3 separate regions of the Homo sapiens genome follow, and regions 1 and 3 are each linked to region 2. The links come from fine-mapping of genetic effects on gene expression. A gene starts in region 2. Each other region holds a variant in brackets. All regions are shown on one strand. Distances are between the middles of the regions. Region 1 holds the start of PLOD1 (procollagen-lysine,2-oxoglutarate 5-dioxygenase 1). Region 2 holds the start of MFN2 (mitofusin 2). Region 3 overlaps MFN2 (mitofusin 2).

Region 1 (10,324 bases), 44 kb after region 2:
AAAAGCAGCAACATGGAAGGTACTTTTGTACTTTTGTGGTGCCACTGCACTCTAGCCTGGGTGACAGAGCAAGTCTCCCTCTCAAAAACAAAAAACAAAAAACAAAACAAACAAACAAAGTACTTTTAGGAACAGCTACCACCACTGAACCCGGTGAGATACCGTGTGCTGTATGAGGCATGTTACATTCATTATCTTATTTCACGGTCAACACTCTACGAGGAAGGTGATATTTTTATCACTGCTTCTTCGGGTGAGGAAACCGAGGCACAGAGAGGCTAAATACCTGACCCAAAGTCACAGAACCTTTAGGTGAAATGGGAATGAGTTGGAATTCTAAATGCCCATGCTCTTGTCTTCATTTCCCTGTCCAAGAGCCCAACATCCTAAGATGCCAGACTCCTGGCTGCAGACAAAAGCCAGCGCTTCCAGTGCCTTCTCTCTGGCCTCTGCAGCACAAGCACCCAACTGCAGTCACGTGGTGAGGTCTTTTCCCAGCTCACTGTTAGGCCAGGCCAGAGAAACCCTTAAGGCATGGATGTGGAAGATTCATTTTCGAGTACCAAGGCCCCTCCCATCTGCTTTCTGTCTGGTCCAGCCAGCTGCCTTGGGCTAAGGCCAAGGCCTGGCACCCAGAGCTCTCAGCCCTCCCCACCTACTGCCCAAAGTCCAGCAATGACTTCCCCAGATGAACCCGTGATCCAGGATCAGCAGAAATCAATGAGATACAACAGAGAGGGTGCTAAAGACAGATTGCTGGGCAGGGAATTTAGCCTCTCCGTGCCTCAGTTTTCTCATCTGTAAAATGGGAATAATACAGATGATAGTACCTCCCTCCAGAGACTTTCATGAGGATTCAATGAGCCAATGCCGTAAAGCGCTTGGCACAGTGCCTGCCTTGGTAGCTGCGGGGGGGTTCTGGCGACAGGGTGCCTCCCCTAAAGGGGAGCTGTGTCTTGGTAGATGCTGCCCTGGGGGTCAGGAATAAAGGGGAGCTGCCTTCCTGAGAGCAAGAATGATGCAGAGGGTGGGGTGGCTCACACCTGTAATGTCAACACTTAGGGAGACCAAGGCAGGAGGCTTATTTGAGGCCCTGAGTTCAAGACCAACCTGTGCAACAAAGTGAGACCCTGTCTCTACAAAAAATTAAAAAATTAGCCAGACATGGTGGCACGCACCTCTAGGCCCAGCTACTCAGGAAGCTGAGGCAGGAGGATTGCTTGAGCCCAGGAGGTGAAGGCTGCAGTGAGCTATAGTCATGCTACTGGGCCACAGGAATTAGCCAGGTGCAGTGGCTCACACCTGTAATCCCGGTCTTTGGGGGGCCAAGGTGGGGATGATCACTTGAGCCTGAGGGTTCAAGACCAGCCGGGGCAACACAGTGAGACCCTGTCTGTACAAAAAAATAAAATTTAGAAAAACTTTTAAGAGAAGAATGATGTGTGCGGTGGCTCACACCTGTAATCCTAGCACTTTGGGAGGCCAAGGCGGGTGGATCACATGAGGTCAGGAGCTCGAGACCAGCCTGGCCAACATGGCGAAACCCCATCTCTACTAAAAATACAAAAATTAGCTGGGCATGATGGTGGGCGCCTGTAATCCCAGCTACTCGGGAGACTGAGGCAGGAGAACTGCTTGAACCCAGGGGGCAGAGGTTGCAGTGAGCTGAGATCATGCCATTTCACTCCAGACTAGGTGAGCGAGACTCCATCTCAAAAAAAGAAAAAGAAAAAGAATGATGTGGAGAGACTGACGGTGAGGGCTTGGTTGGGGTGTGCGTATGTGATGAGCTCCTGGAAGAATGGGACCTCTGGGCACCCCTGGTTTGACTGTGCCACCGGATGCCCCCTCCTCCCCAAGCAGTCCCAGCCCAAGGCGTGGGTGGTCACTGTGTGGCCTGAGTCAAGGCACAGTCATGACACACCCAGTCTGCTCCCTGGGGAGGCGGGAATGAATGAAGCCCTTCCGCCCTCTCCCCTCCCCCATCCTTCATCCCCACCCCAGGCTTGAACTGAAGCCAGGAACAGGGTCTGGCAGGAGCTTGGGATGCCCTGCACGTGGGAGCCAACCTTAGCCTCCCCGGGGCCAGCTGCCCACTTAGGTCTCCCCAGACCCGGCCCCACCCCCACACCATCCAGTGCAGCCTGACTGACTCCTGGGACCCTTCTGTTCTCTAGTAGGGAACAGCATGACCTGAACGGCCAGCTGAGCCTCTGATCTCTGCAGCTGTCCTTCTCTCACCACGGCCAAATCAAGGCCCACAGGGAAAGGCAGGAGCTGGAGATCTGCTAGAAGTTTCTACAAACGGGAGGAAGGGCTGTGGGACATCTGACCTCGGCTCTAGGGATATCTGCCTGTTTGGATGTTGCCTTTTATTCTCCCAGTTCCCTGTGATGGAAGATATTGCTTTGTTGAAGCCTTCTTGTGTCTCCCATCTTGTTCTGGAAGCCCCCCCAGGATGGCGCAACATCTCTTCCCTCAGACGTGGGGTGTCTACTGAAGTGAGGTGCTCTGTACCCCCCTCTCATTGGGAGCCCCCAAAAGTGAAAACGGTCCATGTTTCTCTCCATGCACCAAGGCCATGCGTTTTGGGTGAGGGGACAGACAAGCTGCTGACAGCACCCCACCCATCTCACTCCCCGAGACTCCACAGCAAATCCCCTTCCCTACTCCAGCTGAATCCACCTCAGTAGCTGCCTCCTCCCATCCATCTGCCAGGGAAAGGGAAGAGCTGGCCTCTTTGGGGGCTGCTGGGGTACCCCCCACCAAACACACACACTAGTCAGTGGGATGCTCAGGCAAGACCTGCAGGGAAGATGAGCAACCCACTCTGTCCTCCTGTCCAGCTGGCTAAAGGTCACACCTCAGCTGGGTCTGGGGGAGCTGAGCAGGCTCCCCCAGGCAGCATTTCCAGGCAACAGCACCCCCTTCCCGTCCAGAGGTGCAGAAATGAACAGTAGGTCTGAGTTCCAGACAATGACCCCACCTCCAACCAGCTCTGGCAATGAGAGACCAGATGTTTAACCTACCAGGACCTCAGTCTTCCCATCTCCAAAATGGAGTTGATGATTTCTTACTTAGCAAAGGGATCCTGGCCGGGCGTGGTGGCTCAGGCCTGTAATCCCAGCACTTTGGGAAGCCAAGGTGGGCAAATCGCTTGAGGTCAGGATTGAGACCAGCCTGGCTAACATTGCAAAACCCCGTCTCTACTAAAAATACAAAAATTAGCCAGGCATGGTGGTGCATGCCTGTGATCCCAGCTACTTGGGAGGCTGAGACAGGAGAATCGCTTGAACCCTGGAGGTGGAGGCTGCAGTGCGCTGAGATCGTGCCACTGCACTCCAGCCTGGGCGACAAAGCGAGACTCTGTCTCAAAGAAAAAAAAAAAAAGAAAATGAAAACTTAAAAAAAAAAAAAAAAATGGAAAACAGGGAGGGATCCAAATGGAGAAGGGAAGCAAAGGGCCCAACTCAGACTGGCCTGACATTAGCCCCAGGCCTGGGGATCTGCTCTCTTGTGCATCAGTGAGCACAGATGTGCTTTCTACCTACCAGGTGCTCTACCTGGGTTACCTCAGTAGCACACTGATCCTGTCCTCCGCCCATAGCAGCACCCTCTGTGAAGGCTTCCTTGGATCTGCTCTGCCCTCCTCCTGTCACTTGCTGGGGATCAGGGTGCCTAACGCCCTGTCATCAGTCTGGTCCCTCTTCAATTCAACTCACCGGGCTTCATCATGGGCAGCTGCGGTTTCTCTCCTGGGATGGTCTGGGATGCAGGCACCCCATGTCAGCAGAAGCAGGGGGATCAAAGGCCCAGAAAACTAGGCCACAACAGGGCTCCTGGCCAGTGAGGGGACCCAGGCCGAGAGCCCTTTGCACAGCCCGGTGGTCAGCGTTTCCATCACTGGACTTTCTGAGCTGTCTTACTGCCCTGCTGTAAGCCAGCAGCCCTGGGACTGGGAGAGAAAATGCCCTTTGCCGAGGGCCTTTCATGGGCCAGGCATTGAGCTGAACTCTCCCCAACTTCATCCCCTGGAATTCTTGTTAGAGCTCCAGGCGTGAGGTAGTATCACCGGGTCTTGCAGGCTAGAACACCAAGCCTCACAGAGAGCAAGCACCGCCGGCTTTACCACTGGGAGACGTGGGGCCTTGGGCACAACCTGGTCCGAGGGAGGTACTCAAGAAATGGCAGTTCCTGGCCGGGCGCGGTGGCTCACGCCTGTAATCCCGGTACTTTGGGAGGCCGAGGTAGGCGGATCACCTGAGATCAAGAGTTTGAAACCAGCCTGACCAACATGGTGAAACCCCGTCTCTACTAAAAATACAAACATTAGCTGAGCGTTGTGGCATCCGCCTGTAATCCCAGCCACTAGGGAGATTGAGGCAGGAGAATCGCTTGAACCTGGGAGGCGGAGGTTGCAGTGAGCTGAGATCGCACCATTGGACTCCAGCCTGGGCAACGGGAGTGAAACTCTGCCTCAAAAAAAAAAAAA[G/AAG]AAAGAAAAGAAAAGAAATGGTGGTTCCTGGCTGGGTGCAGTGGCTCCCACCTGTAATCCCAGCACTTTGGGAGGCCGAGGCAGGAGGATCACTTGAGGTCAGGAGTTTGAAACCAGCCTGGCCAACATGGCGAAACCTCGTCTCTTCTAAAGATACAAAAATTAGCTGGGCGTGGTGGTGCAGGCCTGTAATCCCAGCTACTTGGGAGGCTGACGCACGAGAATTGCTTGAACCCAGGAGACAGAGGTTGCAGTGAGCCAAGGTCATGCTACTGCACTCCAGCCTGGGGGACACAGTGAAACACTGTCTCAAAAAAAAATTAAATAAATAAAATAAAATAAATGGTGGTTCCCATTCCTGACCCAAAGAACCCGGGATCCTTCTGGTGATACAGTTTCAGGTTCTCCAGGAGGGTAAGCTGAAGGAGGAGAATGCCATGGAAAGTACCGCCACTTCTGCTTGGCTTTGCTGGGACTGTCCGCAGTCTATGCCCTTCTCGGGACAGCCCTGGAGATGGCCCATGCCAGGGAGGGCTGGGGAGGAGGGAAGCACCCACTCAGGACAGTGGGGCACACACTGCAATCCAATCTGCCTTGAGGAAGTAGAAAGAGCGCTAGACTGGAGCCCAGCTGACCTCGGACCAACCACCTCTGTCTGGACCACCCTGGACAGTCACTTCACCTGTCTGGGCCTCAGTTTCCTCAAGTATAAACTGCAGAGAGGGCCAGGTGTGGTGGCTCACGCCTGTAATCCCAACACTTTGGGAGACCAAGGTGGGCTGATCACCTGAGGTCAAGAGTTCAAGACCAGCCTGGCCAACATGGTGAAACCCCATCTCCACCAAAAATACAAAAATTAGCTGGGCATGGTGGCACATGTCTGTGATCCCACCTACCTGGGAGGCTGAGGTACAGGAGTCGCTTGAACCGGCCGGGCGCGATGGCTCACGCCTGTAATCCAAACATTTTGGGAGGCTGAGGCCAGCGGATCAAGAGGTCAGAAGTTCAAGACCAGCCTGGCCAGCATGGTGAAACCCCATCTCAACTAAAAATACAAAAATTAGCTAGGCATGGTGGCACGTGCCTGTAATCCCAGCTACTTGGGAGGCCGAGGCAGGAGAAACACTTGAACCTGGGAGGTGGAGGTTGCAGTGAGCTGAGATTGTGCCACTGCATTCCAGCCTGGGCGACAGAGCGAGACTCCATCTCAAAAAAAAAAAAAAGAATTGCTTTTACCTGGGAGGCAGAGGTTGCAGTAAGCCGAGATCGCATACTGCGTTCCAGCCTGGGCGACAGAGCAAGACTCTGTCTCAAAAATAAATAAATAACTAAATAAATAATACATTAAGTAAAATAAAAAAAATAAACTGCAGAGAGGAAGACCACCCTGGCAGGGGCTAAGCAGACCACAGGGGACATGGATGAAAGCACAAACTTATCCACAAAGTGAGCCACACCTTCTACCCCCATTCCTCCCCTGTCCCCCTCAAGACCCCTCATTCCCATGGTCATGAGGCCTCCTGGCTCTGGAACCAGACACCTGGGTGGGTGGGGTAAATCCTGGTTCCAAGGCCCACAAGTTGTATGATCTTGGGCAAGTGAATGAACTCTGGAGCCTCAGTTTGCCCAGCTGGAAAACGGGGATAATAGAAGGAAACACTTACCAGGGTAGCAATCATGCCTAACTGATGCCTGGCCCATAGTGAGCACTGGGCAGAATAGCCATTGTCGGTTATTATTATGAAAACTATTATTATTTGAGCCTTTCTGTGCTGAATGGGACTCAGCTGTCACCCTTTCCTTCCCGAAGCAGGAACCGCAGCCCCAAGAGGGGAAGTGATTTGTTCAAGTCACCAGCGATTAAGTGGACAAGGAGCCGGAACCCAGACTCCCTCTCCAGCCCAGGCCTCCCATTCAGGTCGTTCCCAGGGAGGCAGCCCGACACCAGCCCTCCCGCCCGGATCCGCGCTCCCGCCCCCGGCCTTCGCTCCCTCACCCTCCGGCTTGGCGTCGCCCTTCGCTTCGGCCAGCAGCAGCCAGCCCAGCAGGGCCAGTAGCAGCAGGGGCCGCATGGCCGAGGTATGGGGGACGATCGGCCGACCCGGCGGCGCTCGCAGGGCTGGAAACTTCGCGACGGGGCCGCAGGTCCCGCTGCCACGCACTGGGCCCGCCCCGGGGGCGGCACCACCCCGCCCCTCCACGCCCTCCCCCGCGCCTGCCTAGTGGGGAAGGGTTTTTCTGCAGATATGCCCAAGTCCGGGCCTCTCCTTATTAGGGCAGCTCCCTCCGCCTCTCTGTGCAGCTCCCGGGGCTTCCGTCAGGCCCTGCCGTCTCCCTCCCTTCTCTGGGGGGTTCACTCCGACCAGAAAGAGGGCGGTGAGAGGAGAGAGAGGCCACGATTTCTAGACCCCAGGTTCTGGGCCAAGGCTCCATGGCATCGATAGCCACGAGCCCCTGTTTGCTCGCCTGAAAAGTGGGGCTTATGATAGCGTCTGTTCATTGGGTCTTGCACGGGTTAATGGCGTTACCTGTAGCGCACTTAGAGCAGCCCCAGGTCAAGCCCCAAGGAAGTCAGTTTTCATGATTTCATTAGTCCTTCCCAAAACCCAAGGGGTGAGGGTGGGCACGGATGCGTTCAGAGACACGGACACCCCTACGTGGCCCACCCAGGCACTGGAAATGCAGGAAGCCCGTCTCCACTCTCCCCAAAAGGCAATCACTTGATCTCCCTTTGTGTCCCTGGGAGGCAAACCTCTGAGCCAAGGAAAGTCTTGCTTCTGAGGTTTTTTTGTTTTTTGTTTTTTTTTTTTCATTTTTTTGAGACAAGGTTGCTTTCAGTTGCCCAGGCTGGAGTGCAGTGGCGTGATCACCGCTTGCTGCAGCCTCGACCTCCCGGGCTCAAGCGATCCTCCCATCTCAGCCTCCCAAGTAGGTGGGATCACAGGCCTGAGCCACCATCCCTGGCTAATTTTTCTACCTTTTTTTTGAGACAGAGTTTCACTCTTGTTGCCCAGGCTGGAGTGCAACGGCGAGATCTGGGGTCACGGCAACCTCCGCCTCCCGGGTTCAAGCAATTCTCCTGCCTCAGCCTCCCGAGTAGCTGGGATTACAGGCATGTGCCACCATGCCCAGCTAATTTTGTATTTTTAGTAGAGGTGGGGTTTCTCCATGTTGGTCAGGCTGGTCTTGAACTCCCACCCTCAGATGATCCACCCGCCTTGGCCTCCCAAAGTGCTGGGATTACAGGCTGAGCCACCACACCCTAGAGAGATTAATTGTTAAATGAGTAAACGAATCGATGAAAGTTTTTAGGGCCTCTTCACAGATACCCAAAGCCCAACAAACAACTCAACGGTCTCTAGAGTAAGGGCTCCTGGACCAGATGTCAGACAGGGGCAGCCACCTCTGAACAAAAATCCTTCCTTCCTTGGAAGAAACCTCAGACAGAGGCCGGGCACGGTGGCTCACACCTGTAATCCCAGCACTTTGGGAGGCTGAGGCGAGCGGATCACAAGGTCAGGAGTTCAAGACCAGCTTGACCAACATGGTGAAACTCTGTCTCTACTAAAATACAAAAATTAGCCAGGCGTGGTGGCGCGCGCCTGTAATCCCAGCTACTCAGGAGGCTGAGGCAGTAGAATCACTTGAACCCAGGAGACTGAGTTTGCAGTGAGCCAAGATTGAACCACTGCACTCCAGCCTAGGCGACAGAGCGAAACTCTGTCTCAAAAAAAAAAAAAAAGAAAAAAAAGACCTTAGACAGGGACCCAGGAGCCTTCTCCCAGCTGATTAGGCTCCAGAGGAGTGGGTGGCAGGTGTAACCCTAGGCTGGCAGGGGGTTCCCTGCAGGGGGCAAAGGGGTGGGAGAGAAGGAATGTCACGAATGTCAATGGACGACAAAGAGCAGGCTATGCGTCTGTGCTGGGAAAAGATATTAATAAATCAACAGCATTCAGATGAGCTGGGTGCGGTGGTTCATGCCTGTAATCCCAGTACTTTGGGAGGCCAAGACAGCCAGATTGCTTGAGCCCAGGAATTCAAGACCAGCCTGGGCAACATGGTGAAACCCCTTCTTTACTAAAAAAACAAAAATTAGCTGGGCATGGTGGCATGTGCCTGTAGTCCCAGCTATTCAGGAGGCTGACTGGGGAGGATCACTTGAGCCCGGGAGGTGGAGGTTGCAGTGAGCCATGATCACACCGCTGCACTCCAGCCTGGGCAAGAGAGTCAGAACCTGCCTCAAAAAAAACAAACAAACCAAAAAATAAAAATAAAAACAAAATAGCATTCAGATGCTGCAGCCAGAGAAATACACTACCCATATGATGTTAAGTGGAAAAGCAGAATATATAGTATGGTTCCACTCAGTAAAAATACCTTCTTTTTTTTTTTTTTTGAGATGGAGTCTCACTGTATAGCCCAGGTTGGAGTGCAGTGGCACAATCTCAGCTCACTGCAACCTCCGCCTCCCTGGTTCAAGCAATTCTTTGCCTCAGCCTTCCGAGTAGCTGGGATTACAGGTGCCTGCCACCATGCCTGGCTCATTTTTGTATTTTTAGTAGAGATGAGGTTTCACCATCTTGGCCAGGCTGGTCTTGAACTCCTGACCTCGTGATCCACCAGCCTCGGCCTCCCAAAGTGTTGGGATTATAGGCGTGAGCCATCGCGCCCAGCCAAAAATATATTCTTATCGATGTATACATGCATAGAGACAATGCTAGGAGAAAATTATGGCCAAATATTTACTGTGATTATTTCCAGGTTGTGGGATTATTTCATATTTATATAGACAATTTTTGATGTTTTATATTATTTCCAAGTATTTATTTTGTTATTTATATTTTTCTTTTTTTTTCAATAAATATATACTATTTGTAAAATTCAAACAAAATCGGCGGGGCATGGTGGCTTATGCCTGTAATACCAGCCCTTTGGGAGGTGGAGGCAGGCAGATCACCAGACGTCGGGATTTCAAGACCAGCCTGACCAACATGGAGAAACCCTGTCTCTACCAAAAATACAAAATTATCTGGGCATGGTGGCGCATTCCTGTAATCCCAGCTACTTGGGAGGCTGAGGCAGGAGAATTTCTTGAGCCTGGAAGGCGGAGATTGCAGTGAGCCGAGATCGCACCATTGCACTCTAGCCTGGGCAACAAGAGCAAAACTCCGTCTTGAAAAAATATATATATATATTCAAACAAAATCAATACATGCTATTTTTAGAATATAGGTCCAGGCCGGCACAGAGACTCATGCCTGTAATCCCAGCACTTCGGGAGGCCAAGGCAGGAGGACTGCTTGGGCCCAGGAGTTCCAGACCAGCCTGGACACTATAGCAAAACCCTTCCCCCATCTCTATTAAAAAAACAAAGATAGAGTCAGTCACTGGGAACCTTGGAAATCATCTCATTGTGTGGAAATCATCTCATTGTATGGAGATGTGCTCATTGCACAGATAGCACAAGTGATATCCATAGGCATGGGGCAGCAAGCTCAAGGTCCCAAGGCAAGTAAAAGGAAGAGGCCTGAGCAGAATCCAGGGCCCCTACCTCCCAGCTGGGATCCAGGGCTGGGAGTTTCAGCATCTGGAGACAGGACTTGGTGCCAGAATCCACCGGATGTTTTGGATTCAGGAGGATGCAGACTCAGACTCCAGACCCCTGGAGGAAGAGGAAATGCCAGGAGGAGCAGAGGGAGGAGAATGAGCATTTGTTGGCTGGTTCCATGTTCTCTTTTTTTTTGAGACAGGGTCTCACTTTGCTGCCCAGGCTGGAGTGCAGTGGTGTGATTACAGCCCACTGCAGCCTCAACTTCCTGGGCTCAGGTGATT
Region 2 (10,324 bases):
AATTTGCAGTGAGCCAAGATCTCGCCACTGTACTCCAGCCTGGGTGACAGAGCGAAGTCTCTCTCTTTAAAAAAAAAAAAAAAAAAAAAAAAAAAGGGATCAAGGATGGGGCATGATATAGCACTACCTATGACAGGTTTTGTAATCAGGCAGAGCTGGGTTCAAATTGTGACTACATTATTTCTGGGCTGCTTAAACTTAAGCAAGTTATTTCATCACAGAACCTTGGTTTCTTCATGTGTACAACAAACAAGACACCTACTGGAGAGAGAAACTGTCTCAAATTATCTTTTTTCTCTACTCTCACACCATAATCATCAACACAAGAGACTTCTGTGACCAAATGTGAGGGGGTTTCTTCCCCACACACCAACCAGCGGACAGCAGCTGGGTATCCTCTCATTCAGTTCCCATGCTGTCTACCTGGAGAGAGTGTCAGATCCCACAGGTTGAGGGCTCAGTCCCCAGGACTGCCCCGCCTCTCCACCACCACCCCTCAAACATACCAGTTGCAAGTCTGGGCCTCCAGAATTTCTCACCGACTGGCTTCAGGCTGGGGTTCCCATGACCCCCTCTTTGAGTTCAATTAATTTGATGGAGCAGCCTACCTAGCCCAGGGAAACACTTACTTACGTTTACCAGGTTATTATGAGGGATATCGCAAAGGATACAGATAAGGAGACGCTTAGGGCGAGGTATGGGGGAAGAGGCGTGTAGTTTCTGTGCCCTCCCTGAGCAGGCCTCTCTCTAGGAACCTCCGTGTGTTCAGCTATCCACAAGCTCCCTGAACTCTGTCCTCTTGGATTTTTATGGAAGCTTCATGACATCAGCATTCCTTCCCCCAGGATACAGGGTCCACCCCTCTCAGGGGAGGGTTTTAAGGCCCACAATCAGGTGGGGAAAGATTAGGGTGGAAGGAGAGCAGAAGGTCAGAGGCCTGCCCCTGAGGCCTAACACATCTAACATTATATCAAAAAACCATAACAAGGGCTGTGGATAGGAGTTATGAGCCTGGATCCGTGGATGAAAACCAATATCCTAATACCACAATACCATCTAAACTGTGAGAAGACTAAAGTTGATGACGCAAGCAACATGCTTCACTACAGTAAGAGCTAAAGGCAGCTTTACATGTTATAAAACAATAACAACAAACTCTACCAGCAAGATCACAAGACTCTCTCCATGAACACCCAGCCTTCAGGGAGGGCAGAGGCAACTCCGCCAACTCACACCACACACACCACTCCCTTACCCGCTATCACGGAGATCAAATAAACAGGTCAGCTGGGGAAGGATCAGCGATACCCCACTCCAGAAGTGACTTGCTGCAGGAAGCAAGTTCCCTGCCATCAGAAGCAGGTGCTTTTAAGTTCTGGTCAATGTTTGCAAGCCCAGGAGATATAAAACCAAAAGCATTAGTGCTCACTAACTGCAAGACTCGACAGCGTGTACACCAGTAGAAGCTTGGGAGCTCCAGGTTACAAGGTCTGCTGGGAGTTCAGCCGGTCCAGGAGCCTCCCTGCTCTCACTAATACCCAGCCTGCAGCTGCATCCAAACCCCTGGCGTAAAACCTACTGTCAACCCCTCCAAACTCTGCCTGATTTATCTGGCTCTGCTAACTTGCAAGCTGAGATTCCACATCTGTGTTGCATGAGCTGCTTTCTGCCTGGAATCCTCCTTCCTTTTCCACCCATTTGGCATACTCCTACTGTCCTTCTAGACCCAACTCAAGTGTCACCCGCTCCATGAAGCCTCCTCTGATGCCTCATAGAGAACAAACAACATCACAGACTTCTGGTTTTTATCACATCCTGTGTTCCCCAATTATCTCAAGGCTTTGACTGCTGACTCCCTACTCCTCCAGGGTGATGCAGGGCAGCTGGGTTCCTCCTCTGCCTCTGGAAAGCCTTGATAATCTCTGCTTCACCACAGACCTTGCCACAGGCACGTGGGGACCATCCTGCAAGCATAGCCTGAGAGCCCAGCTCCAACATCAGTGACACACTAAGCGTCACACTTCAAGCTGTGACTGCCTCATAAGTGCTCTGGAGATTACTGTTTTGGATAGTTTCTGGCAGCACTTCCCAAAGCGTGGTCCACAGAACTCGACTTGCACCCAATATCCCATGTAAAGAAGGTTCAATAGTAGAATCAGTTTGTAAAACACCATATGCTAGGCCAGGCGCGGTGGCTCACGCCTGTAATCCCAGCACTCTGGGAGGCCGAGGTGGGTAGATCACAAGGTCAGGAGTTCGAGACCATCCTGGCTAACACGGTGAAACCCCATCTCTACTAAAACTACAAAAAATTAGCCAGGCATGGCAGCATGCACCTGTAGTACAGCTACTCGGGAGGCTGAGGCAGGAGGATAGTGTGAACCTGGGAGGCAGAGCTTGCAGTGAGCCAAGATCACGCCACTGCAAGATCGCGCCACTGCACTCCAGCCTGGGTGACAGAGCAAGACTCTGTCTCAAAAAAAACAAAAAACAAACAAACAAACAAAAAACACCATATGCTACCATTTTCCTCAGTGGAGCACGTGAGCACAGCAAAAGAGTTTGGGAAGGAAGCCTTGTTGTAAAGACACTAGTTTAACTGTGTTGAATTCAGCATTTCACAAATATAATCAATGAAAAAACCCTTCTGTGTAATAGCTTTTAAAATCCCGAGGATCACACTTTAGGGAAAAGCCCACTCTTTCTGGTACTCTCCTGCCCCTACCCCTAAAAAGTGCCAGGGCACAGTATTAATAAATATTAACCTAAGACCAGAAATGAACCCAGTTCTAAATGGAAACTGCTATTAGCCCTCCAAGGTGGTCAACAGCTTTGCCTCAACCTAGGCTATTCGTTGAGGAGTATTAGGTATCTTGGGTGTAGAGACAGCAGTAGCAAAATTCACTGCAAGGTGTGTTTGGATCCCAAGCACAGTCCCTGAATCCACACCACCTCCTTACCCAGTGTTATGTACAGCAACTCCTAGCAGGGAAAATAAAATGGATCCACGGATCGTCTGCTGGCACAACTGGAAAAGAGGAGAAGCTGAGAAATCGAAACAAAAAGAGTATACAGGGTAAAGGGGACAGAGCAGAGTCTTAAAAGAGCAGTGACAAGGAGCCAACCTGTGCTGGGCCGAGATGGGGAAGAGCCAGCACAGCAGAGACCAAATGAGGGAGACAGAGACTAACTCTTCAGGGAGCCCAAGAGATCCCAGCCACTTCTGAACTGTCAACTTTTAAACAGGCTCTCTAAGCAACCAGCGAAATCCTTCACGGAAGTAAAAGATACGGTAGTTTTTCAACACAAGTTAGAAAGCTGTGGCTCTATACAAAGAGGATGCCATTCAAGAGACTTGCCACCAGAGGTCCAGGAGAGCACACCCCTGTCCACTCAGCTCAAATCCAGGGTGCCAGAAGTCACAGCTACTACTTACTTTTTTGGATGGTGAGAGATCTTCACAGGGTAGGCATCATGGACATGGCTGAAGTCCAAAAGACAAAAAGATTCTGAGTTCTCTTCTGTCCTGTCTCAGGTTGAGGTTGGCTATTGATTGACTGTGTTGACTCCACCAGTCCTGACTTATTAGAAAAGAAAAGGGAGATGGATCCGGTGTCCAAAAAAAAAAAACACTGGTGTACAAAACATGTCTAATCAGGTTTCAAGCCAAACAAACTCATCCCTGAGGGAAGCTTACTCATTGAGGTATTGGGGAGTTGCGCTGGCATGTGAGGAAGTGCCCTGGGGAAAAAAACGCAGAGGTGTGGGACCAATCCTGACTGTGCACACGTATTCCGCCATGTGCGGGTTTGAGGCACCACGGAGGTCCCTGCAGGAGCCCTGGGAAAGGTACATCCAGAGAGGGGAGAAGAGGACAGAGCAAAACTAGGAACAAAACTGGGCTTGAGGACTGTGGAACAGCTGACTATTGAGGAACAGAAGAACTGACTGAAAGCCAATGTGTTCAGCTACTGTAAAGTATCTCACTTAATTCTCTATTCTGTGGGACAGAGGGCTGGAATACTTGAAGATTTGTCTAAGCTGGGATCTGAAATATTAGCTCCCTTTGACTCCAAAGCTCCTGGAGTGCAGCAGCGCGATCTCGGCTCAACCTCCGCCTCCCGGGTTCAAGCGATTCTCCTGCCTCAGCCTCCTGAGTAGATGGGATTACAGGCGTGTGCCAGCAAGCCCGGCTAGTTTTTGGTTTTAGCACAGACGGGGTTTCACCATGTTGGCCAGGCTGGTCTCCAACTCCTGACCTCAGGTGATCCGCCCGCCTCAGCCTCCCAAAGTGCTGGGATTACAGGTGTGATCCACTGCGACCGGCCTCCTTCCTTTTTTAACTACATTGAGCTGCCTTCCTCCCCCAAGCCCCAAACCTTGGGACACCAGAGGCGGATAACCAGAGCCCTTTTCTGGGTAGAAAAGAGATAACCAGAGCCCTTTTCTGGGTAGAAGAGAGAGAGATGATTGAGAATTTAAAGAGGGCAATGAAGGATTACGAGAGGGGGTAACGGGCAGTTCTGCCTTCGTGCGTCTTAACAGCTATTTATTCAACATTTTCTGTGTGCCTTCTCTGTGTGTGTCAGGCGCCACGTTAGAAATGGATAAGAAACAGTCCTGCCCTCCAGGGCCTTACAGTCCGGTGAGAAGTCATATAAGTAAACAGGGCTGAACGAGAAGGCAGTAACTGCCCAAAGTGGGGATGGCAGGGCGCTCCCGCGGTGAACGTGGACACCTATCAGGTGCTGAGTAAATGCTGGCAAAATGAAGACAGGATGAAAAATAGAGAAGGGGCAGGGGTAGAACATGGCCGTGAAGGGTGGAAAGGCGGGGGCGATGAGAAGCTACAGGGGACCCCACCGACCAGTCCCAGGTCCCGTGGCCCGCCCCCTCCTCTCAGGGCCGGGGAGGGCCCGGCGGCGAGGCCGGAGAGTGGGGACCCCGCTTGACTGCATCCCAGACCCCCGTGGCCCCAGAATCCCGTCGGCCCACGCCGAGCTGCTCAGGACTCGCCGGGCCGGGCCGGGCCAGTCCCCGCCACCCCGGCTTGCTCGCCCTCTCACCTTCACCTTCCCGGCCTCGCGGCGGCCATCACACTCACTACGTCACCAGCGAGCGCCACCCCAGGGGGAGGCGGGAGGAGGGAAGTGGATAAGCGCGTCACCAGTCGCCTCAGATTGCCCCTCGACCCGGGTGAGCTGGTGGACCCTGAGCCCAGCCGGCTCGCCCCGCCTACTCCTTACGCCTCTGCTGCCCCGCGACTCGGCGCTTCGAGCGGCGTCTCAGCGCGCCACTCCTCCGCGCGCCACTCCTCCGCCGGCGCGTCCCAAGCGGACGACGCAGAGGCTCGGACTCCCACTGCATCATGGGGGCTGTAGTTCCGGTGGGCGTCGGCCGGAGCTGGGGGGGCGGGGCAAAGCGGGGCGGAGCCTCAAGCTGTCAAGGGGCGAAAAACCAAGGGCGTGGAGTAGAGGTTCCCGCTTTTTCGCCGGTTGTCCTAGAGCCTGACCCTGGGGCCTCTGCCAGCTCTGGAATCCAGATTTGCATTCTGTAATCTTAGAGGAGTGTTCTCTAGAGGGCCAGGCCTAGGGTGAAGTGACTCATCGGGCAGACAGAAGCGAGCATGGGCCTGCTGCCCTTCAGTCGCCTTTGAGGAAAGAAGAGCAGCAACAACGGCGAATCAATGCCAGTGACTGAACTGCGTCTCTAACATCCACCGCTGTATTTAACGTCCACAGCAGTCCCAGGAGAGGGAGAGGAGAGGTTACCCAAGCTCACATGGTTACCCAGATCACCGGGCCCCAGTGATGCGGCAGACACTACTAGGAAACCGCAGCAAACAGATCCCTTGCAGGACTTGGCCTCCGCAGAGAAGGCTCCAAGCCTGAGCGCGCCAGAACAGTAGGCACTAGCCACGTGTGGCTCTCGAGTCCTGAGCCAGTGCAAACGGAGATGCGCTATAAGACTTAGGACAAAAAAGGCTGTTAAACTATCTCAATTTTTAGGAAAAAAAAATATCGACCGGGCGCGGTGGCTCAAGCCTGTAATTCCAGCATTTTAGGAGGGCGAGGCGGGTGCATCGGGAGTTCAAGACCAGCCTGGCCAACATGGTGAAACCCCGTCTGTACTAAAAATACAAAAATTAGCCAGGCATGATAGTGCACTCGGGAGGAAGAGGCAGGAGAATCGCTTGAACACGGGCGGTGGAGGTTGCAGTGAGCCGAGATCATGCCACTGCACTCCAGCCTGGGCAACAGAGACTCCGTCTCAAAAAAGAAAAAAAAAATCTATCTTTGAGCCAGAGTCTCACTCTCACTCAAGCTGGAGTGCAGTGGTGCAATCACGGCTCACTGCAGCCTCGAACTCCTGGGCTCAAGTAATCCTCCCACCTCACTCAGCCTCCCAAGTAGCTGACCACAGATGCTGCAGCCATGCCTAGTATTTATCTTTTGTAGACATGGGGAAGCATTTCACTTTGTTACCCAGGCTGGTGTCCTGAACTCCTGGACTCCTGGAGTCAAGCAATCTTCTCCTGCCTCGGCTTCCCAAAATGCCGGGTTACAGGTACCTGCCACAGTGCAGGGCTATTAGCCCATTACTATTTATATGCTGACTACATGTTGAAGTGATAATATTTTGGGTCATTTGGGTTAAATACATTACTAAGATTAATTGCACCTGTTTCTTTTTAAAAATGTCGCTACTAGAAAATTTAAAATTACATAAGTAGCTTGCATTTGTGGGTCAAACTGTAATTCTGTGGGATGGTGCTGCTCTATAACCATGGTAGAACAACCTCAATTTATTGCCACAAACAACCTCAAGAGGCAAATCAGTACTCTGATATAGAAGTGACTGGTTTATCAGTCTCATGACGATGGCCAAAGGGAGCTGTCCTGCCCACACTGCCCTCTGAGTAGCCTAGTGCCCCGCGGGTCTGACTGTGGACTGTGGGGCCACACGCAGACTCAGCCTCAGGGTGTAGACAGGGCCCTGTCTGGGATGTAGCGTGCCTTGGGGCCTCAGCTGCTAGCTGCCTGGTACTGGGTCGGATTGTTTCCTCCTCCACAATCTCTGGACTCCCTAAGGAGAGGAACTCTAAATTCCACTTCCATTCTCTGAGGGCAGGAACTATAAATTCCATTTCCTCTTTTTTTTTTTTTTTCTTTTTTTTTGAGAAAGAGTCTCGCTCTCACTCTGTTGCCCAGACTGGAGCTCAGTGGCACCATCTTGGCTCACCGCAACCTCCGCCTCAGGCAATTCTCCCGCCTCAGTCTCCCCACTAGCTGGGATTACAGGCGTGCACCACCATGCCTGGCTAATTTTTGTATTTTTAGTAGAGATGGGGTTTCACCATGTTGGCCAGGCTGGTCTCAAACTCCTGACCTCAGGTGATCCACCCGCCTCAGCCTCCCAAAGTGCTGGGATTACAGGTGTGAGCCACCACGCCCAGCCTTCCTTTTCCTTTTTAGCAGAATCTTGCCCGTCAGGTGAAAGCCTGGATGTTCTCTCTCCTAAACATCTCCCCTGCCCACTCCCTCCTCTTCCCTAAATTTCCCTGCAAGCATTGGTCTAGGTCCTGGTCACTTGCCTGGACTGCTGTAGGAACCTCTGAATCCATTCCCAGGCATTTAGTCTTGTACTCTGCCCAGCAGCTGGGCTTTATCTCTGAAACACATCTGCATACTTGCCCAGCAAGTAGAGGAAATCTCAGTTTGGAGATATGTTTCAACCCATTAACATGTGTTTCTCATTGAGATGGCTGAATCCTCGTTTCAACCCTCGGGATGACAAAACTCTCCTAGCAGTGCTGAGTGTTATTGGGAATGGGTGCAGAGCACACTGATGTACAACTCCAGGAGACCTTTCTTTCTTACGTTTTTGTTTTTTTTTTTAAGACAAGAGTCTTGCTCTCTCACCCAGGCTGGAGTGCAGTGGCACAATCTCAACTCACTACAACCTCTGCCTCCCGGGTTCAAGCGATTCTCGTGCTGCAGCCTCCTGAGTAGTTGGGTTTACAGGCATGTGCCATAAAGCCCACCTTATTTTTGTATTTTTAATAGAGACAGGGTTTTGCCATGTTGGCCATGCTGGTTGAGAATTCCTGGCCTCAAGTGATCCTACCACCTCAGCCTCCCAAAGCGCTGGGATTACAGGCATGAGCCACTGCACCCGGTCCATATTACTTTTTGTTGTTGTTGTTGTTGACAGGTTATTGCTCTGTCACCCACGCTGGAGTGTAGTGGTGCAATCTTGGCTCACTGCAACCTCCACCTCCCAGGTTCAAGTGATTCTCCCAGCTCAGCCTCCCAAGTAGCTGGGATTACAGGCACCTGCCACCACACCTGGCTAATTTTTGTATTTTTTTGTAGAGATGGGGGTTTTGCCATGTTGGCCAGGCTGGTCTCAAACTCTTGACCACAAGTGATCCACCCGCCTCAGCCTCCCAAAGTACTGGGATTACAGATGTGAGCCACAGCATCCGGCCCCCCATGTTACCTATTTTGTTTGACTTTTTCATGGTGAAGATGAGTTTGTAATCAGAAAAAAGTTAACAGTTAAAAACAACCCTATGCCGGGCACAGTGGCTCACACCTGTAATGCCAGCACTTTGGGAGGCCGAGGCAGGTGGATCATCTGAGGTCAGGAGTTGGAGACCACCGTGGCCAACATGGTGAAACCTCATATCTACTAAAAATACAAAAACTAGCTGGGCGTGGTGGCGGGTGCCTGTAATCCCAGCTACTCGGGAAGCTGAGGCACGAGAATTGCTTGAACCCGGGAGGCAGAGGTTGCAGTGAGCCGAGATCATGCCATTGCACTCCAGCCTGGGCGACAGAGTGAGACTCCATCTCAAAAACAAAAACAAAAATAACCCTAACATACACAAACACACACACAGGCTTGTGTCGGCACAAACCAGCTCAAGAACGTTCAAAAAACAGATTAGACATGGTGGCTTTCAGAGAGAGGAACTGAGCAGCTGGGGGGAAAGGATGACAGAAAGATTAAGATTTGTGCTGTTTGAATTTACAATGAGTCAATTTTGAAAATGAAAAGACTAAAAAATCTTTTTTTTTTTTTAATTGAGATGGAGTCTTGCTCTGTCACCCAGACTGGAGTGCAGTGGCCCAATCTTGGCTCATTGCAACCTCCACCACCTGGGTTCAAGCGATTCTCCTGCCTCAGCCTCCCGAGTAGCTGGGATTACAGGCGCATGCCAACACAACCGGCTGATTTTTTCATATTATTAGTAGAGACAGGGTTTCGCCACGTTGCCCAGGCTGGTCTCAAACTCCTGACCTCAGGTAATCCGCCTGCCTCAGCCTAAGTGCTGGGATTACAGGTGTGAGCCACTGTGCCTGGCCTCAAAAATCTTTTTTAAAAGACTTTCAGGCCTGGGATGGTGGCTCACGCCTGTAATCCAGTACTTTGGGAGGCCGAGGCGGATGGATCACCTGAGGTCAGGAGTTCGAGACCAGCCTGGCCAACACGGTGAAATGAAACCCCGTTTCTACAAAAAATACAAAAATGTGTCAGGCATGGATACCTATAATCCCAGCTACTCAGGGGTCGAGAGGCTAGCATGACCTTTCTTAAAGGCTCTAAAAAGAGGGCTCTTGGCCGGGCACGGTGGCTCATGCCTGTAATCCCAGCACTTTGGGAGGCCGAGGTGGGTGGATCATCTGAGGTCAGGAGTTCAAGACCAGCCAGACCAACCTGGTGAAACCCTTTCTTTAATAAAAAAACAAAAATTAGCCAGGCGTGGTGATGGGTGCCTGTAGCCCCAGCTGCTCGGAAGGCTGAGGCAGGAGAATTACTTGAACCCAGGAGGCGGGGGTTGCAGAAAGCGGGGATAGCGTCATTGCACTCCAGCCTGGAAGACAGAGTGAGACTCTGTCTCAAAAAAAGAAAAAAAAAAAAAAAGAGGGCTCTTAAAACCTCTCTCCCTGCAGACACTCACACCAAGACACACACACACCCACTCGCCCTGAGCATCTTCCCTTCAGTGGTTTAAATGACCTTTAATAGAAACTCTCCAGTTTCTGACGGTCTGTCCCTCTCTTCAGAGGCATCCAGGACAGGGTGACCCAGTGTGGTGTGTGGACCTGTCACTCCCCTCCCCACAGGCAAGTAGAAGATCGAGCTGTGCACAGATGCCTCTTCTGTCTCCCAAGAGGTTCTCTGGAGTCGCTGTCTCCAGGGGACTACGGTTTGCTCTCATGACCAGCCATGGAGGCAGAAGTCCCAGACTCAGGGCAGCCCTTGGAGTCTGATCCAGGTGTCTTTACCCCAAAACTTGAAGCAGAAGTCCCTGGTG
Region 3 (7,929 bases), 33 kb before region 2:
TCAGGAGTTCAAGATCAGCTTGGGCAACATGGCGAAACCCCGTCTCTACTAAAAATACAAAAATTGGCTGGGCGCGGTGGCTTACGTCTGTAATCCCAGCACTTTGGGAGGTCCAGGCAGGCGGATCACCTGAGGTCGGGAGTTCCAGACCAGCCTGACCAACATGGAGAAACCCCGTCTCTACTAAAAATACAAAATTAGCCGGGCATGGTGGCGCATACCTGTAATCCCAGCTGCTCGGGAGGCTGAGGCAGGAGAATCGCTTGAACCCGGGAGGCGGAGGTCGTGGTGAGCCAAAATCGCACCATTGCACTCCAGCCTGGGCAACAAGAGTGAAACTCTGTCTCAAATTAAAAAAAAAAAAAAAAAAGAATGAAAAGAAGATAGGTAGCCCCTCTACCTCCAGAAGAGCCGAGGGTGATAACACCAGGCACCGAGCTAGCAGGAAGCCCTCCGACTCAAGAAGATGGCTGATCCTTGGCAGGAATGCATGGATTATGCAGTAACTCTAGCAAGATGAGCTGGAGAGGTAGTTTGTGATGCTCTAAAAAATGAAATGAGGCCGGGCACGACGTCTCAGGCCTGTAATCCCAGCACTTTGGGAGGCCAAGGCGGGCGGATCAGTTGAGGTCAGGAATTTGAAACCAGCCTGGCTAACATGGTGAAACCCCGTCTCTATTAAAAATAGAAAAAAATTAGCCGGGTGTGGTGGTGGGCACCTGTAATCCCAGCTACTCGAGAGGCTGAGGCAGGAGAATGGCTTGAACCTGGGAGGCGGAGGTTGCAGTGAGCCGCGATTGTGCCACGGCACTCCAGCCTGGGTGACAGAGTAAGACTGTCTCAAAAAAAAAAAAAAAAAAAACTATATATATATATGAACCCACATTCACTACTGGTGGGGATATAAGACAGTATAACCACTTCACAAAATCTGTAGAAGTTAAACATAAATTTACCATATGGCCCAGCAAGTCCAGCCTGAGATATCTACCTACAAAAAATGAAAACATCTGCCTACACAGAGATTTGAACACTAATGTTCCTAGCAGAAATACGCATAATGTTGTCTAGAAGATCACCAGGGTGGCTAAATAGTAGAAAGGAGCACTTTATTGTTGATACTTGTTTGCAAACCAGGAAGAGATGGTTTGCAGCATGCACTGAAGGTGCTCTCTTCCAAGAGAGAAAGGACAGGTTGGGTTTTATGCCTCACAGGGCCCATATTCATACATATTTAGCAGGTTTGAGGGAAAAGCTGTATACATATTTATGAGAGGAGGTGAGCTCATGTGCATTGGCTAAACAGGTTGTTCACAGCTTCTGTAAGCTGGCTGAAACTGGCTTAAGTTCTGCAGTTGCTTATCAGAAAAGAATGTTTATTGGCTGGGTGTGATGGCTCATGCCTGTAGTTCCGGCACTCTGGGAGGCTGGGGCAGGAGGATCACTTGAGCTTGGGAATTAGAGGCCAGCCTGGGCAACACAGTAAGATCCCATCTATTTTTTTTTTTTTTTTTTGAGACGGGGTCTCATTCTGTTGCCTAGGTTGGAGTGCAGTGATGCAATCTCGGCTCACTGCAGCCTCCACCTCCTGGGTTCAAGTGATTCTCCTACCTCAGCCCCCGGAATAGCTGGGACTACCAGTGCACACCACCATGCTGGGCTAATTTTTGTATTTTTTGTAGAGACAGGGTTTTGCCAGATTGCCCAGGCTGGTCTCAAACTCATGAATTCAAGCGATCCTCTCACCTCAGCCTCCCAAAGTGCTGGGATTACAGGCATGAGGCACTGTGCCCAGCCAACATACATTCTCTATTTGAAAAATTAAATTAAAAAAAGAAAAAGAATATTTGTGTCCAGACATGGTGGCTCACACCTATAATCCCAGCACTTTGGGAGGCCAAGGTGTGAGGATCATTTGAGATCAGGAGTTCGAAACCAGCCTGAGTAACATAGTGAGATCCCTCGTCTCTACAAAAAAACAAAAAATTATCCGGGCATGGTGGCGCACACTTTTAATCCCAGCTATTCGGGAGGCTAAGGTGAGAGGATCACTTGAGTCTGGGAGGTCAAGTCTGCAGTGAGCCGTGATTGCGCCACTGCACTCCAGCCAACAAAAACCTACCTCAAAAAAAAAAAAAAAGTTTGTCAGACCGGTCCCCTGTGTAATCAGAGGCATAAGGGTTTGGTTTGTAAATCAAGACTTGAGATAATTTGCCTGATGGCTCCTGATGTTAGGGAGTTTAGCGAGTATGTTGTTTTTCTTTGTAACTGAAAAAGGTTACTAATCAGTGAGTGAGATTTTTGTTGTTGTTGTTGTTGTTTTGAGAGGGAGCCTCCCTCTGTTGCCAGGCTGGAGCGCAATGGCGTGATCTCGGCTCATTGCAACCCCCACCTCCCAGGTTTAAGCAATTCTCCTGCCTCAGCCACCCTAGTATCTGGGATTACAGGTGCACGCCACCAAGCCTGGCTAATTTTTGTATTTCTAGTAGAGATGGGGTTTCACCATGTTGGCCAGGCTGGTCTTGAACTCCTGACCTCGTGATCCGCCCACCTCCCAAAAGTGTTGGGATTACAGGCGTGAGCCATCGCGTCTGGCCCCAGGGGCAGATTTTTATCCACCTTAGTCACTGCTATATCTCCAGTGCTTAGAACCATGCTTAGCACATAGTAAGTGCACAAATATTTTGCTGAATTAATGAACTTCCTCATTTGAGGAAATTAGGGAAAATAGACCATTGGATTTTGAGATTAGGGCTCATGCGTATGAAATGTCTGACATACTAAACTCTCAAAGTTCGCTGTTCTTATCTCAAGCCTAAGAGTCCCACTTAGACACAGGAAACCATCCACTTGAGGACACGGTGAACAACTTAGCTGACATCTGCGAGGAGGGCCCTGCTTCTGAGGCCACATTATGAAGCCAGATGCTCTCCGAGAGAGCTGCCTGGGCTGTCACCCCAGTGCTTGGGACACAGTGGAACATTCCTGACTACCTACTTTTTGTGATTAAATAGGGACATTGTTACCAGAGGGCTAAAACTTCCAGCCTCTCAGATTCGCCAGTGGACAGATGAGGTAGTCAGAGAAAGCACAGGAATGAGGCTGGCCTTGACTGGGAATAACTAAGCAGCATTTGCATAAGGCAAGAAGGCCCTTTTTCAAACTATGGCTCATCACCCGGGATGATGCTGTCGTGAACAATTTAGTGGGTTGTACATAACATCTTGTTAATGACAGAAACTACTTGTTTTGTGGATTGCAAAAAAAAAAAAGGTAATGATTCATTTTTTTTTTGTTACCTGAGAAAGTCTTTGGCTGCTGCCTTGAAACAGCCACAAGATGGCGAGGATAGGCGGGGACAAGGCAGGAACAGGAACCTAGATCCGGGCTGATGGTTATGATGGAGGTGAGGAAACTGGGCAGGGTCAACAGACTTGGAAGACAGCAGGTGACAGATTTGGTGCAGCACGTGTGACCGTGGACTCGAGGGTGATGCCCCAAGTGTGTAGCCTGGGAATCTGGAAGGATGAGGTTGCTATCAGCTGAGCTGTGGCCTCTGTGGGCGAGCAGGGCGGACACTGGGCAGCACCAGAGCCAAGAGGACAGCTGTAGGGGCGGGGAAACTGACTGACTACCCCTGTATCTACTCCTGAGGACCCTTAAAAAAAAAAAGAAAAAAAAGCGGTGGCTCACACCTGTAATGCCAGCACTTTGGGAGACCGAGGCAGGTGGGTCACAAGGTCAGGAGTTTGAGACCAGTATGGCCAAGATGATGAAACCCTGTCTCTACTAAAATACCAAAATTAGCCAGGCCTGGTGGTCGGCGCCTGTAATCCCAGCTGCTTGGGAGGCTGAGGCAGAGAACTGCTTGAACCCGGGAGGCGGAGCTTGCAGCGAGCCGAGATCGTGCCACTGCACTCCAGCCTGGGCGACAGAGCGTGACTCCATCTCAAAAAAGAAAAAAAAAAAAAAGAATAGTGGCAACCAAATTCTCAGAAGGCAAAGCAGGATGGAACAGTGAGTCATTTACTTTTTAAGTGAAAAAT[G/T]GTCTGGAGTTACAGAGAAATCTGTAAAGAAATCAGTCTCGATTTCCTGATCCTTAAAGATCAGTTAAACCATCTGTTCTTTTGAGAGTATCAAATTCCTTCCAAGAATAAGGAGCCAGATTATAGTGGGAACTTCCCCAAAGTTATGGTCACTTCAGAATACAGCTGGCCATGTCAAAGAGGAGTTTGTACAAGAACCCAAAAAGACAGATCTCACAAAGGATTTCCAACTAGGTTTTATTTTAGTTTCCAATATTATGAGCAATGATACAGGAGTAACTCAAGCAAATACATCACCTTAAATACATCAGAGAAAACTCACTGTGTCAGCACGTCTTGCGCTCCAGCAAATGAACATAAAAACAACAATGTCAGCAGCATTAAAGTGCTTTTGGCCATACTTCTTTCAGAAAGGGTCTCTCCCTCAGTGGTATAAATTTAATTTTACGTATTGAAGAAGCTCAAAATTTCATTCATTCCCCAGGGGCTACATTGAAAAAAAATTCATGTTTACGCTAAAGAATTTTTTTTTTTCAAAAAGAGCACAAAATCCATTGGAATTGTGTGACAGTGATTTTCCCTGACATGCTGTGAAGTGGCCCCTGTCCATTCAGGCCCGGCACACGCCGGGAACATCCACCCACAGCATGTCCACCTGGCAGAGTCCATCACTTCGCCCCACACAACAGGACAGACTGAGGGCTTTAAATACAAGCAGGTATGTGAACAGGACATCACCTGTGATGTGGCCACCAAACAGTGCACAGAGGCTACCAACTCATTTCCTCAAAGATGAGTGATGGCTGGGCTGCTGGGCCCCTGCCTTGTGGGCTGCTTTTTGGGAGAGGTGTTGCTTATTTCTAGGAAGCGATCCAACTTGTGCCACACAGGATTTGTCACCCAAACTGCTTTTCTCACACAGTCAACACCTTGGTGACAGGCATCTGCCCCCACTTCAACCAGTAACAATCCCAAAACTCAACATCAGCATAAAGACAAGGGGGTCAGTCGAAGGTTCTGGAGATCAGGGAGGGTGGAAAGATGGACACTGGGTTTTCCACATTGTCCCTTGGCCAACTGCAGTCACTGGCACAGGAAATTTAGTCCAGGGCACTTGGGACAAGGTTGGGGGTGGGGTGGAAACATGTCTCTTAAAGGGCACAACAGGGATGCAATCAAGCCTAGTGGGTGGGGGCTCTCAGACCCATGAGCCCCTCGCAGAACGAGGCCAAGTGGACGGCCCATTCTCCAGCTGTCCTGTGTGGGGCCCATGCACCTCAGCCAGCCACCAACGTCCCCACCTTCCACCATCCATCCTTCTACTACATCCTTCAACCACCTAGACCATGCCATCTTCCAAAACAGATCTACACAAAACAGGCCTGCACAAGTCCAGGACTGACACTAAAGCAAAGGACACAATAATGAGAAGAGAGGCAAGTCCCTCCTTGTCCCAGTGACTGCCACCTGCTCTGCCAGCTCCCCATACATCCAACAGCCCTCCCCTCTGAGCTACTCCCACTCCTCCAGCTGCCTCAGCAGCATCCTTTCTACCACCCCCAGCACAGGGCCCGCCTCAGCCTAAGCCCAGGGGTAACTGAGCCTCACCACCAAGACGTGTCTGAGGCTCTGCAAATGGGATGAAGCACTGAGCCAACAGGCGAGATGGACACACACAAGCCACAGTCCTTCTGGGACAGACTCTCTGGGAAGAAACTCCAATCGTCCCTTACACCTGCAGGTGTGCTGGGCTGCAAGGAGGGCAGGTGCGCACAGGCTGGAGGAAGGTGGGGGTGTCTGTGTGATACCCTCAAAGGCTTCCATGAGGCATTGTGCAATGCTGAGATCCTGAGGCCTTATCAAGCAATCAAATGAACCAGAGAAAGCTGGAAAAAGCCTCAACTTAACTCCTTGGTACCATGCTGTCCATAGCTGTCGCTGAAAGTGTCCTTTGGGGGTATGAGCCAGCTCTTCCAGCAACAGCAGGCAAAGGTGGGGGAAAATAAGTAGTGCTGGAGGGCTCAAAATGGTACGAGACTGGGTGCTTCATTCTCTTGGCAGTGGCCAGGGGGCAGGAGCCACACGTGCCCCTGGGGGAGCCCACATGGCACTTAGGGCTGGCAGCACCGCCCCTCTCCACGCAGACTCCGCCTCAGGTGCCCACTATCTGCTGGGCTGCAGGTACTGGTGTGTGAACATGTTGAGCTCACTGTCCAACCAACCGGCTTTATTCCTGCAAAGAAATGGTTCTTTTGTAACCATGATAGCTGATGATAGGCAGTATTAGGACTACCCGCCAGGCACCATCCTAAGGACGCTTGACACACACCCTTACATCATCCTCCAACAATCGTGTTTATCCCTGTCTCACAGATGGGGAAAAGGAGGCCCAGAGGGGTTAAATAACTTCCCAAGGCCACACGGCTAATAAGCCAGGGAGCTACAAGTTAGGCTTTTCTGATTCTCAAGCCCTGTGTTTCCTTCACCCAGGACCATGTGCAAGTCCCTGAGCTGTCGGGAACTCAGTTTCCCTGCTTGCCAAGCAAGGGGTTGAGGTGCTGACAGGAGACCCTTTCCAGGTTCAGCTGTGTCACTGTGGCTGACAAGCAGCAGTTCCCCCCATTCCCCCTTTCTGAGAGTCCCCAGAGGGCAAGCAGTGTGTCCCTAGGAAGCAGCTGTCCCCAGGTGGGGGTGCGGGGGGGGCACATCCGCAGTCGAGGGCAGGGAAAGCCCAGTGATCCGGTGAGGGTTGGAGCTGACACCCTCTGATCCATCTCCCCTCTGGCTCTGCCACCCTGCAGACTCTGACGTCAGGGGCGAGGGCAGGAAGTGCAGGGTCCCCGTGTGCTGATGCTATCATGGGCTAGGCAGGCCGAGGACTTCTGCAGGGTCCCCGTGTGCTGATGTTATCATGAGCTGGGCAGGCCGAGGACTTTTGCAGGGCACTTTTACATTCAGTCATGCAGCTGTGTCATGAAATCTTACTCCCATTTTACAGATGAAAATAATGAGACACAGGAGAGTTAAGAGCTTGGGCCAAACATGAGTGGCTGGAGAGAACCCAGGACTCCAGACTCCTCAGACTGATGTTCTTTCCAGCAAATTATTAATGAAAGCTCCACAGAGACCCCATGGAGATCTGAGTTCCAATCCCAGCTCTGCCAGTCCCCAGCCAAGTAACCAGCTTCTCTGTGGGTAAATGGGGGGCTATGCCCTCTTCATGGGTCCAAAGAGTGGCAGGTAAGGAGAATCAGAGTGCGGGGGCTGCTGGAGCCAAGTACACCTGGGCTCCCCTCCTAGCCTGGCCATTTTTTGAGATGCCAGACAAGTTCCCCAACATTTCTATGTAGAAAATGGAGAAATAGGGAAGACTGAGTGAAATAGCACATGTTAAGCGCTGTAGGCCCTGCGGTTCAGCACAGGGCGCTGTGAACTGCAGTCTCGCAGTACTGTGATGCCATCATGCCTTCAACTGCAAGTGCCTTGAAGGCAGCGACGCTGTGTCTTGTTGAGCCTCCAGCACCATCTGGCATCCATGAGGTACGTGGTACACATCCATTTTTTTTTTCTTTTTGAGACAGAGTTTTGCTCTTGTCGCCCAGGCTGGAGTGCAATGGCATAATCTCGGCTCACTGCAACCTCCGCCTTCTGGGTTCAAGCCATTCTCCTGCCTCAGCCTGTCGAGTGGCTGGGATTACAAGCACACACCACCACGACCAGCTAATCTTTGTATTTTTAGTAGAGACGGGGTTTCACCATGTTGGTCAGGCTAGTCTCAAACTCCTGACCTCAGGTGATCTACCTGCCTCAGCCTCCCAAAGTGCTGGGATTATAGGCGTCAGCCACCGTGCCCAGCCCATGGTACACATCTAACACGAATGAG

Evidence for each region. PIP is the estimated chance that this variant, and not a neighbour inherited with it, causes the effect.
Region 1: its variant is fine-mapped to the expression of MFN2 in whole blood (INTERVAL, PIP 0.96).
Region 3: its variant is fine-mapped to the expression of MFN2 in whole blood (INTERVAL, PIP above 0.99).

The regions. Positions count from the first base shown.
Region 1 is chr1:11,931,020-11,941,343 of GRCh38, reverse strand. It overlaps PLOD1 (procollagen-lysine,2-oxoglutarate 5-dioxygenase 1), which reads right to left and starts at 6,627. Exons shown (of 19, transcript NM_000302.4): 1 at 6,489-6,627. The coding sequence starts at 6,564. RefSeq lists enhancers at 1,522-2,414, 1,377-2,576, 5,995-6,918, 7,039-7,088, 6,919-7,844 and a silencer at 6,349-6,818. The variant G/AAG (reference allele first, on the strand shown) is at 4,493.
Region 2 is chr1:11,975,227-11,985,550 of GRCh38, reverse strand. It overlaps MFN2 (mitofusin 2), which reads right to left and starts at 5,107. Exons shown (of 19, transcript NM_014874.4): 1 at 5,067-5,107; 2 at 3,437-3,581. PLOD1 (procollagen-lysine,2-oxoglutarate 5-dioxygenase 1) reads right to left here. Exons shown (of 19, transcript NM_000302.4): 19 at 10,014-10,324. RefSeq lists an enhancer at 3,266-3,365 and silencers at 4,822-5,061, 5,232-5,491.
Region 3 is chr1:12,009,846-12,017,774 of GRCh38, reverse strand. It overlaps MFN2 (mitofusin 2), which reads right to left. Exons shown (of 19, transcript NM_014874.4): 19 at 4,267-6,279. The coding sequence ends at 6,210. Among named protein-coding and RNA genes, the nearest start is that of MIIP, 5.7 kb to the left of the region's middle. The variant G/T (reference allele first, on the strand shown) is at 4,047.